Linked DNA regions of Homo sapiens: region 2 is linked to region 1. The links come from fine-mapping of genetic effects on gene expression. Tissue or cell type: whole blood. Region 1 holds a variant in brackets; the other region holds the start of a gene. All regions are shown on one strand. Distances are from middle to middle.

What was found. PIP is the estimated chance that this variant, and not a neighbour inherited with it, causes the effect.
Region 2: APPL1 starts here. The variant in region 1 is fine-mapped to the expression of APPL1 in whole blood (INTERVAL, PIP 0.98).

The regions. Positions count from the first base shown.
Region 1 is chr3:57,260,222-57,264,622 of GRCh38, forward strand. APPL1 (adaptor protein, phosphotyrosine interacting with PH domain and leucine zipper 1) reads left to right here. Exons shown (of 22, transcript NM_012096.3): 19 at 407-553. Among named protein-coding and RNA genes, the nearest start is that of ASB14, 30 kb to the right of the region's middle. The variant A/G (reference allele first, on the strand shown) is at 1,703.
Region 2 is chr3:57,225,091-57,229,491 of GRCh38, forward strand. APPL1 (adaptor protein, phosphotyrosine interacting with PH domain and leucine zipper 1) reads left to right here and starts at 2,639. Exons shown (of 22, transcript NM_012096.3): 1 at 2,639-2,847. The coding sequence starts at 2,794. It also overlaps a transcript of HESX1 not described here. RefSeq lists a silencer at 2,437-3,096.

The DNA of each region.
Region 1 (4,401 bases):
ATAATCCTGATCCTGTATATTCAAGTGTGATAGTATCAGCTATGATTGGTCTTTGGCTGTTGTAGTTAAGTCTATGGCCATCTCCAAAAAGTTGTCATTGAACATTTTATGTAACTTAAAAGAATTAACACAATTCTTTTTGTAATTTTTTTAACACAGTTCTTTTTGACTTTGTAAAATGTGTTAATGACTAATAAAACAAATGTAATATTCAACAACCTTTTTCTGCTTGTTAATTCAAACCAAATATGACATTACTTGTTTCTGCATTACAAGTCTGTTAAAATAATTGGCTTTAATATATTAAAATATTTATATTTTTAGAACTTAGCATATGAGTTTGTCACAAGTGCTGCTGTAATGACTTGTAAGATCTCATGTTTGCTTCTGATGTTTTCTGTGGCAGTTTCCATTACCTTGTGTAGTTTTGTATGCTACACACCAGGAAAATAAGCGCCTTTTTGGATTTGTTCTTCGGACATCAAGCGGGAGAAGTGAAAGTAATCTGTCATCAGTCTGCTATATATTTGAGTCAAACAATGAGGGGGAAAAGGTACATGGCTTTTCAGAATATCTCTGTCATAACCACTTACTAATTGATTCTTACTAAGATTTAATAATAATTAAATTCTTACAAATTAAATTAGTTAGTAATTACTGATTGAATTCTTTACAATTTATACAAATTTATGAGGCACATGTGAATTTTGTTACATGTATAGAATGTACAGTAAGCAAGTCAGGGTATTTAGGGTGTCCATCATCCAAGTACAATACATTTTTGTGAAGTATAGTCACCCTACTCTGCTGTCAGATATTAAATATATTCTTTCTATCGTAATTTATGGTTGTACCCTTTAATCAGCTTTTCTTCATCCTCCCCCTTTCCTCATCACTCAGCCTTCCCAGTCTCTGTTGTCTGTCATTCCACACTCTGCCTCCACGTGATCAATTTTTTGGCTCCCACATACAAGTGAGAACATGTGATATTTGTCTTTTTGTGCCTGGCTTATTTCACGTAAGATAATGACTTCTAGTTCCATCCACGTTGTTGTGAATGACATGATTTCATTCTTTTTATGGCTGAATAGTACTCCATTGTGTATATGTACCACATTTTCTTTATTCATTTATCTGTTAATGAACATTTAGATTGACTTAATATCTTTGCTATTGTGAATAGTACTACAGTAAACATGTGAGTGCAGGTATCCTTTTGATACAGATTTCTTTAATTTTGGGTAGATACCCAGTAGTGGGATTGTTGGATCGAATGGTAGTTCTATTTTTAGTTTTTGTTGTTGTTGTTGTTTTTGAGACGGAGTTTCACTCTGTCGCCCAGGCTGGAATGCAGTGGTGCGATCTTGGCTCACTGCAACCTCTGCCTCCTGGGTTCACGCCATTCTCCTGCCTCAGCCTCCCGAGTAGCTGGGATTACAGGTGCCTGCCACCATGCCCGGCTAATTTTTTGTATTTTTAGTAGAGACGGGGTTTCACCGTGTTAGCCAGGATAGTCTTGATCTCCTGACCTCGTGATCTGCCTGCCTCAGCCTCCCAAAGTGCTGGGATTACAGGCGTGAGCCACCATACCCGGTCTATTTTTAGTTTTTTGAGAGATCTCCATACTGTTTTCCATAGTGGTTGTACTAGTTTATGTTCCCACCAACAGTGTATGAGTTCCCCTTTTTTCTGCATTTCACCA[A/G]CATCTGCTATTTTTTGTCTTTTTAGTGATAGCCATTCTGACTAGGGTAAGAATGGCTCATTGTCATTTTGATTTGCATTTCTCTAATGATTAGTAATGTCGAGCATCTTTTCATATACCTGTTGGCTGTTTTTGTGTCCTTTAAGAAATGCATATTCATATCCTCTGCATACTTTTAAGTGGGATTATTTGATTTTTTCCCTGTTGAGTTCGTTGTATATTCTGGATATTAGTCCCCAGTTGGATGAACAGTTTGCAAATAATTTCTCCCATTCAACAGGTTGTCTGTTTACTCTGTTATTTCTTTGGCTATGCAGACACTTTTTAGTTTAAGTCCCATTTGTTTATTTTTATTGCCTATACTTTTGAGGTCTTAGGCATAAAATCTTTGCCGAGACCAATGTGCAGGAGAGTTTTCCCTTCATTTTCTTCTAGTGTTTTTTTTTTCTATGGAAAATAACCTTTTTTTTTTTTTTTTTTTTTTTTTGAGACAGACTCTTGCTCTGTTGCCCAGGCTGGAGTGCAGTGGCACAATCTTGGCTCACCGTAACCTCCACCTCCTGGATTAAAGTGATTTTCCTGCCTCAGCTCCCAAGTAGCTGGGACTACAGTTGTGTGCCACCATGCCCGGCTAATTTTTTTAGTAGAGACAGGATTTCACCATGTTGGCCAGGCTGGTCTTGAACTCCTGACCTCAAGTGATCCACCTGCCTTGGCCTCCCAAAGTGCTGGGATTACAGGCATGAGCTGCCACACCCAGCTGGAAAAAGAACCTTTAATAGAACAATTATTGAGAATATCGTACTAACAAAGTTTCTCAAGAGACTAATTAGAGCTAAAATGGTGAAAGTAGGATGATCTTTGTTTTTCGTTTTTTGTGGGTACAAGGGGTGTGTGTGTGTGTGTGTGTGTGTGTGTGTGTGTATGCATTTTTTTTTTTTTTTCCAGATGGAGTCTTGCTGTGTCACCTGGGCTGGAGTGCAATGGCGCGATCTTGGCTCATTGCAACCTCCGCCCCCTCGGGTTTAAGCGATTCTCCTGCCTCAGCCTCCTGAGTAGCTGGGTCTATAGGCATGCGCCACCACGCCCAGCTAATTTTGTATTTTTAGTAGAGACAGGGTTTCTCCATGTTGGTCAGGCTGGTCTCAAACTCTCGACCTCAGATGATCCGCCTGCCTCGGCCTCCCAAAGTGCTGGGATTACAGGTGTGAGCCACCTCGCCCAGCCAGGTGTATATATTTATGCAGTACATGAAATATTTTGCTACACTTATGCAATGCGTAATAACCACATCATGGAAAATGGAGTATTCCTTCCCTTAAGCATTTATCCTTTGTATTAGAAACAATCCAATTATACTCTTTTAGTTATTTTTAAATGTACAATTATTATTGACCGTAGTCCCCCGTTCTATCAAATACCAGGTTTTATTCATTCTATTTTTTTTTTTTAATCATTAACCATCCTCCCACCCCCCATCCCCACACTACCCTTCTCAGCCTCTGGTAACCACCCTTCTGTTCTCTGGCTCCATGAGTTCAATTGTTTTGATTTTTAGATCCCACAGATAAGTGAAAACATGCAATATTTGTCTTTCTGTGCCTGGCTTATTTTGCTTAACATAATGACCTCCATGTTCCATATATCTTATTGCAAATGACAGAATCTCATTCTTTTTTATGGCTGAATAGTACTCCATTGTATGTAAGTACCACATTTTCTTTATCCATTTTCTTTATCCATGTATCATCCATTCAAATGACAGAATCTCATTCTTTTTTTCTGGCTGAATAGTACTCCATTGTGTGTGTGTGTACATTTTCTTTATCCATTCATCTGTTGTTTTTTTTTTTTTTCCATTCATCTGTTGATGGACACTTAGGTGGCTTCCAAGTTTTAACTATTGTGAACCGAGCTGCAGCAAACATGGGAGTGCAGATGTCTCTTCAATATACTGATTTCCTTTTTTTAGGTATATACCCAGCAGTGGGATTGCTGGATCATATGGTAGCTCTATTTTTAGTTTTTTGAGGAACCTCCAGACTTTTCTCCATAGTGGTTATACTAATTTACATTCCCACCAACAGTGTACAAGGGTTCCCTTTTCTCCACATGCTTCCCAGCATTTGTTATTGCCTTTTTGCTATAAGCCATTTTAACTGGGGTGAGATGATACATTGTAGTTTTGATTTGCATTTCTCTGATGATCAGTGATGTTGAGGACCTTTTCATATGCCTGTTTGCCATTTGTATGTCTTCTTTTGAAAAATGTCTATTCAAATATTTTGCCCAGTTTTAAATCAGATTAAGGTTTTTCCTATAGAGTTGTTTGAGCTCTTTGTATATTCTGGTTATTAATCCCTTGTCAGATGAGTAGTTTACAAATATTTTCTCCCATTCTGTGGCTTGTTTCTTCACTTTGTTGATTGTTTCCTTTGCAGTGCAGAAACTTTTTAACTTGATGAGATCCCATTTGTCCATTTTTGCTTTAGTTGCCTGTGCTTGTGGGGTATTACTCAAGAAATTTTTGCCCAGACTGATGTCCTGGAGAGTTTCCCCAATATTTTCTTGTAGTAGTTTCATAGTTCAAGGTCTTAGATTTAAGGCTTTAATCCATTTTAATTATATTTAAAAAAATTTAAAAAAAAATAAAAAAAATAAAAAAAAATTTTTTTAAAAAATATTTTTGTATATGGTGA
Region 2 (4,401 bases), 35 kb before region 1:
CTGCACAAAACGTAGGCTGAATAAACTTAAAGTGGTTATCAAAAAGGACTATGAATTTTGCAGCTTTGGAGATGTTTTAACTTAGGAAATACAACCATATTTTTGGATGAGCAGGGTATACAGTGGCCTAAAGCTAGAGAATCCAAATGGAAGGTTAAAACTGGATTCTAGTACAAATAGGTTAAAACTAGATTTGACTAAACCTACCTCTCCATCCAACTGAATGTGAACCTGTTTTTGTTTGTTTTATTTTTTCATTTTTATTTATTTTTTGTTTTTGAGACAGAGTTTCGCTCTGTCGCCCAGGCTGGAGTGCAGTTTCGGCTCACTGCAACCTCCACCTCCCGGGTTCAAGCGATTCTCCTGCCTCAGCTTCCCAAAGAGCTGGAACTACAGGCGTGTGCCACCATGCCCAGCTAATTTTTGTATTTTTGGTAGAGACGGGGTTTCACCAGTTGGCCAGGATGGTCTCCATCTCTTGACCTCTTGATCCGCCTGCCTCAGCCTCCCAAAGTGCTGGGATTACAGGCGTGAGCCCCACCGCGCCCAGCCTGTTTTATTTTTTAACCAGCTGAGTCCGGCAAGAATTCCTTGCCATTCTGCGATAATGTAATGGCCTCTTGAGAGTCCTTTACAGAAACACAGTTTAGATGTACATAACATACTAAGAAGGAAACCATTTAACTTGACAATACCACACCCAGATAATTCAGATAACTAATCGAATTTTTCATCGGAATTATTTGGTTTGGCCAAGTTAATTAGGTAACAAATACTTTTCTTTTCTTTTCTTTTTTTTTTTTTTTTTGATACGTAGTCTTGCTCTGTCGCCCAGGCCGGAGCGCAGTGGTATGATCTCAGCTCACTGCACCTGGGCCTCCCGGCTTCAACTGAGTCTCCTGCCTCAGCCGCCTGAGTAGCTGGGACTACAGGCACGCCACCACGCCCGGCTAATTTTTGTATTGTTAGTAGAGACTGGGTTTCGCCATGTTGGGCAGGCTGGTCTTGAACTCCTGACCTCAGGTGATCCAGCTGCCACGGCCTCCCAAATTGCTGGGATTACAGGCGTGAGCCACAGCGCCAGGCCTTTTTTTTTTTCTTTCTTATACATTGTTTACACTCCTCACTTACTCCTGATTCTTAACAGTTGCCACAACCTTTCTTCATTTAAAATCTAACTCAGTTCAATCAGGAAGGTCACTTACCTTGAAAGTCTTCCTTCTTTAGAGCTGGGGTGCATGGTGTTCTTGTTGGCAGAGTAGAAATGAGATATCAAGGAAAAAGAAACTGTAACACAACTGGGAACCCTTAACTCATTGTAAGAACTGCCTCCAAATCAACTTCCTCAAAAACTAAAGAACTCTTCGGGAGAGAGAGACTGGCTGATAAACAATCTAAGGGGAAAACTTTTAAAGATTGTAACACTAAAAATAATTCCGTAAAACTACAATGCAAGTCTACTCAACAAAACTTTAAAAATATAATTTTATTTTTCTTTCAAGAGATCATGGGAAAATCTACTATTTTCGTTTAAAATATATAACTTCTATTTGTTACTATATTTGGATTTGAGCTACTACTATTCTGGATTTGTTCCCATGTATCTGTGGAACCAGGCAGCTAATTAATCTTTACTCAGCATCTCTGGTATTTCTTGAATGAAAATGGAATGGATTGGTGGAATTAATGGCTAGATGTTTAGAAGACACTACTTACTTTGTTATTTTCTCTGTATAATGATGAAAGCCTACAACTATACAGAGACATAAACGAGCCAGGGTGACAGGTTGGGAAAGATGAAGAGGGAGGAGGAAAGGATAGGCTTGTAGCCCTCATCCGGTCAAATTCCCAACTTTGAGCTTCACTTTATTGTAAAATTAGAGGCTAAAACTATTTAACGCTTCCAAAACTTTTTGATTCAACAAATGCCAATTAGTTACTAACATAATTAATCAGTGTATCCTGATTTTTAAAAGATATTTTCCTTTGTGATTTAAAAGAAACATGGGAGTTGGAGTTGCAGCGTCAGTCCTGAAGGACTGACCTCGGGAGGCCAGGTAGGAACTGATAAACTGGCAACAAAATCACATGTTTTCAACTGAATATACTGATATTCAAGCGTCCAGAAAAACAATTTCGAGCCTACGTTCACAAGTTTGCCAGAAAGCCCTATTATTGACACAGCTGCGGATCTCAGACATCTGAGTTAGTCAGCACCATTCTGCTGGAGGGGATTAAGACTGGACGCTTCGAGCGGAGTTGGGAATGTTATCATCTGAGGAAACTAAAAGGCGCCAGCAGTAGGACTTTCTCCAAGGTCTCTGACAAAATATGTTGCGGGAAAAGTCAACCCGCCCCAAATTCCCCCGTGTGGCCCTAACTCGAGGCTCTGGCTCCTCGCGCCGGCAAGCTGAGGAAGAGACGGTCCCCTGCGATTTAGATACAAACGCGCGCGTGCAGGGAAGGCCATCCCAGGGCAGACACTGCCACCTCCGCCGCTTCCGACGCCCGCGCTCGCGGGAGAGCCTAGCGCCGCACGGGAACCTCCCGACCACCGCCGCAGCGCGGATGGGCGTCCCCGGGAGCCAATGGACGCGCCGGGAGGCGGGGCAGGGAGGCCGAGGGGGCGGGATTTCCCGCACGGCCGCTCGGCGCCTGGAGAAGGCTGTGCGGGCGGGGACGGCTGCAGCCCTTGCCGGAGAGGGCGGGCCGGGGTCAGCTGCGGCGGGCGGGCCGGCGCGGGGAGCTGTGGGCGGCAGCTGCGTCTCCTGCCACCGCCCTCCCTCCGCCACGATGCCGGGGATCGACAAGCTGCCCATCGAGGAGACGCTGGAGGACAGCCCGCAGGTGAGGCGCGGGAGCTGGTGGGCGACGAGGGAGAGCCCAGCTGGCCGACCCCAGGTCTGGCGCCTCCGCGGCTCCCGCAGGTGCCCGCCCCGGCCCAGGTGGGGGCCGCCGCCGCCCTAGGTCACCGCCCGTCGCAGGCCGCGCCCGGAGTTGTGGAGGCTGGGCCCGCCGCCCAAGGCCCGCGTGGGCCTGCTCGGCTGGGCCGAGGGCCGCAGGCGGAGACCGAGCCGCTGGTGCTCGTGGGCCGGGCGGTCACGTACGCGCGCGGGTCCTTTTTATTTGACGAAAGGCGCCGTTTTTATCGCGGTGATGTGAGGTGCCAAATCTCGATCCTGGAATTTTCTCCCTGAGAACCTCTTCAGAAAAATTGCAGAAGGGAGAGAAACCCCGATAGTCTTATTTAATGATTTCCGAGGCTCAGCAAGCTAAGGAAGGAAATGGATCGTTTTTCTTTGGGAGAGGCTGTAAGGTTGTGTGTGGAGCCCTAATGGCAAAGCCCGTGACGGGTCCCGGAGCCCAAGACCGCTCTCCCCGCCGAATGTGCCCGTGTCGCGGCCGTGACTGTGGTCGCTGTCACTCGAGCTGTGCACGGCGAGGGATGGACGGTGCCTTCGCCGCTCCGCGACTGCTGCGCTGCTCCCTGCAGACTTGGCCTTAATAAACTCATCAAAATAAAAGCCCTGTGTTCTGTGCGTCGGAATGATGCTGATGTGGTTGCTCTAGCTTAAGACAGTTTTGGAAAATGTAACCATTTAATATGTTTTCAGTACTGCAGAATGAAAGCAGCTATATTTTTTAAAATGTTGGCAGGGGCTGTAACTTGCATAGGGAAAACTTCATCTCTAAGCCGTTTTACACGATAATTTAAACGGTTTAAGACGGTGTTGCTGGTTGGACACTATTTAGAATGAAACATTTCTGAATTGTTGCTGATTTAGAAATGCAGTTGCACCATTTCGTGTGTCTTTACAGTTGAACATGGCCCCCAAAGAAGAAAAGCAGAAGAGGTCTAGATCTCCTTTTCCTGGATGGCACTTCTGCCATGGATTTTGTGCCAATGTTAATTGCCAAGTTGAAATGGGGCTCTGATTGTAGAATTGATTTGTTCTTTTTTATTCTGAAAGTTATCTTCACAGGCCAGTTGCCTGCTGCTAATGTACTCTTAACAGCTGATAGTGACAAAAAGAGAAACTCACATTTGGTTTATCTTGACTGCCAGTATACTCGGTTCAATTTTTTTCTTGATGATTTCTCCATATAAAGTTATAAACTGTATTTGTTTCAGATGATTTGCAAAAAGTTTGTGGAATTGGTCAGGTGTACTTTGTCATTTTACTTTTTATTATGTAAGATTCAACAGGTTGCCTTACCTTTCTTCTCTTACTTGGCTTTTTTTTTTAATAGCCCATAAAGACTATAAACGGCTCAGAATGGATTGCACACTGCCCTGGAAATGACTTGTGAGGCAGAGATAAACTCTTGACTCATCTAATGTCTTGAGGTTTTTGCCAGATTAGTTTACAACTTAAGAATTGTGGTTTTTTTTTTTCTTTA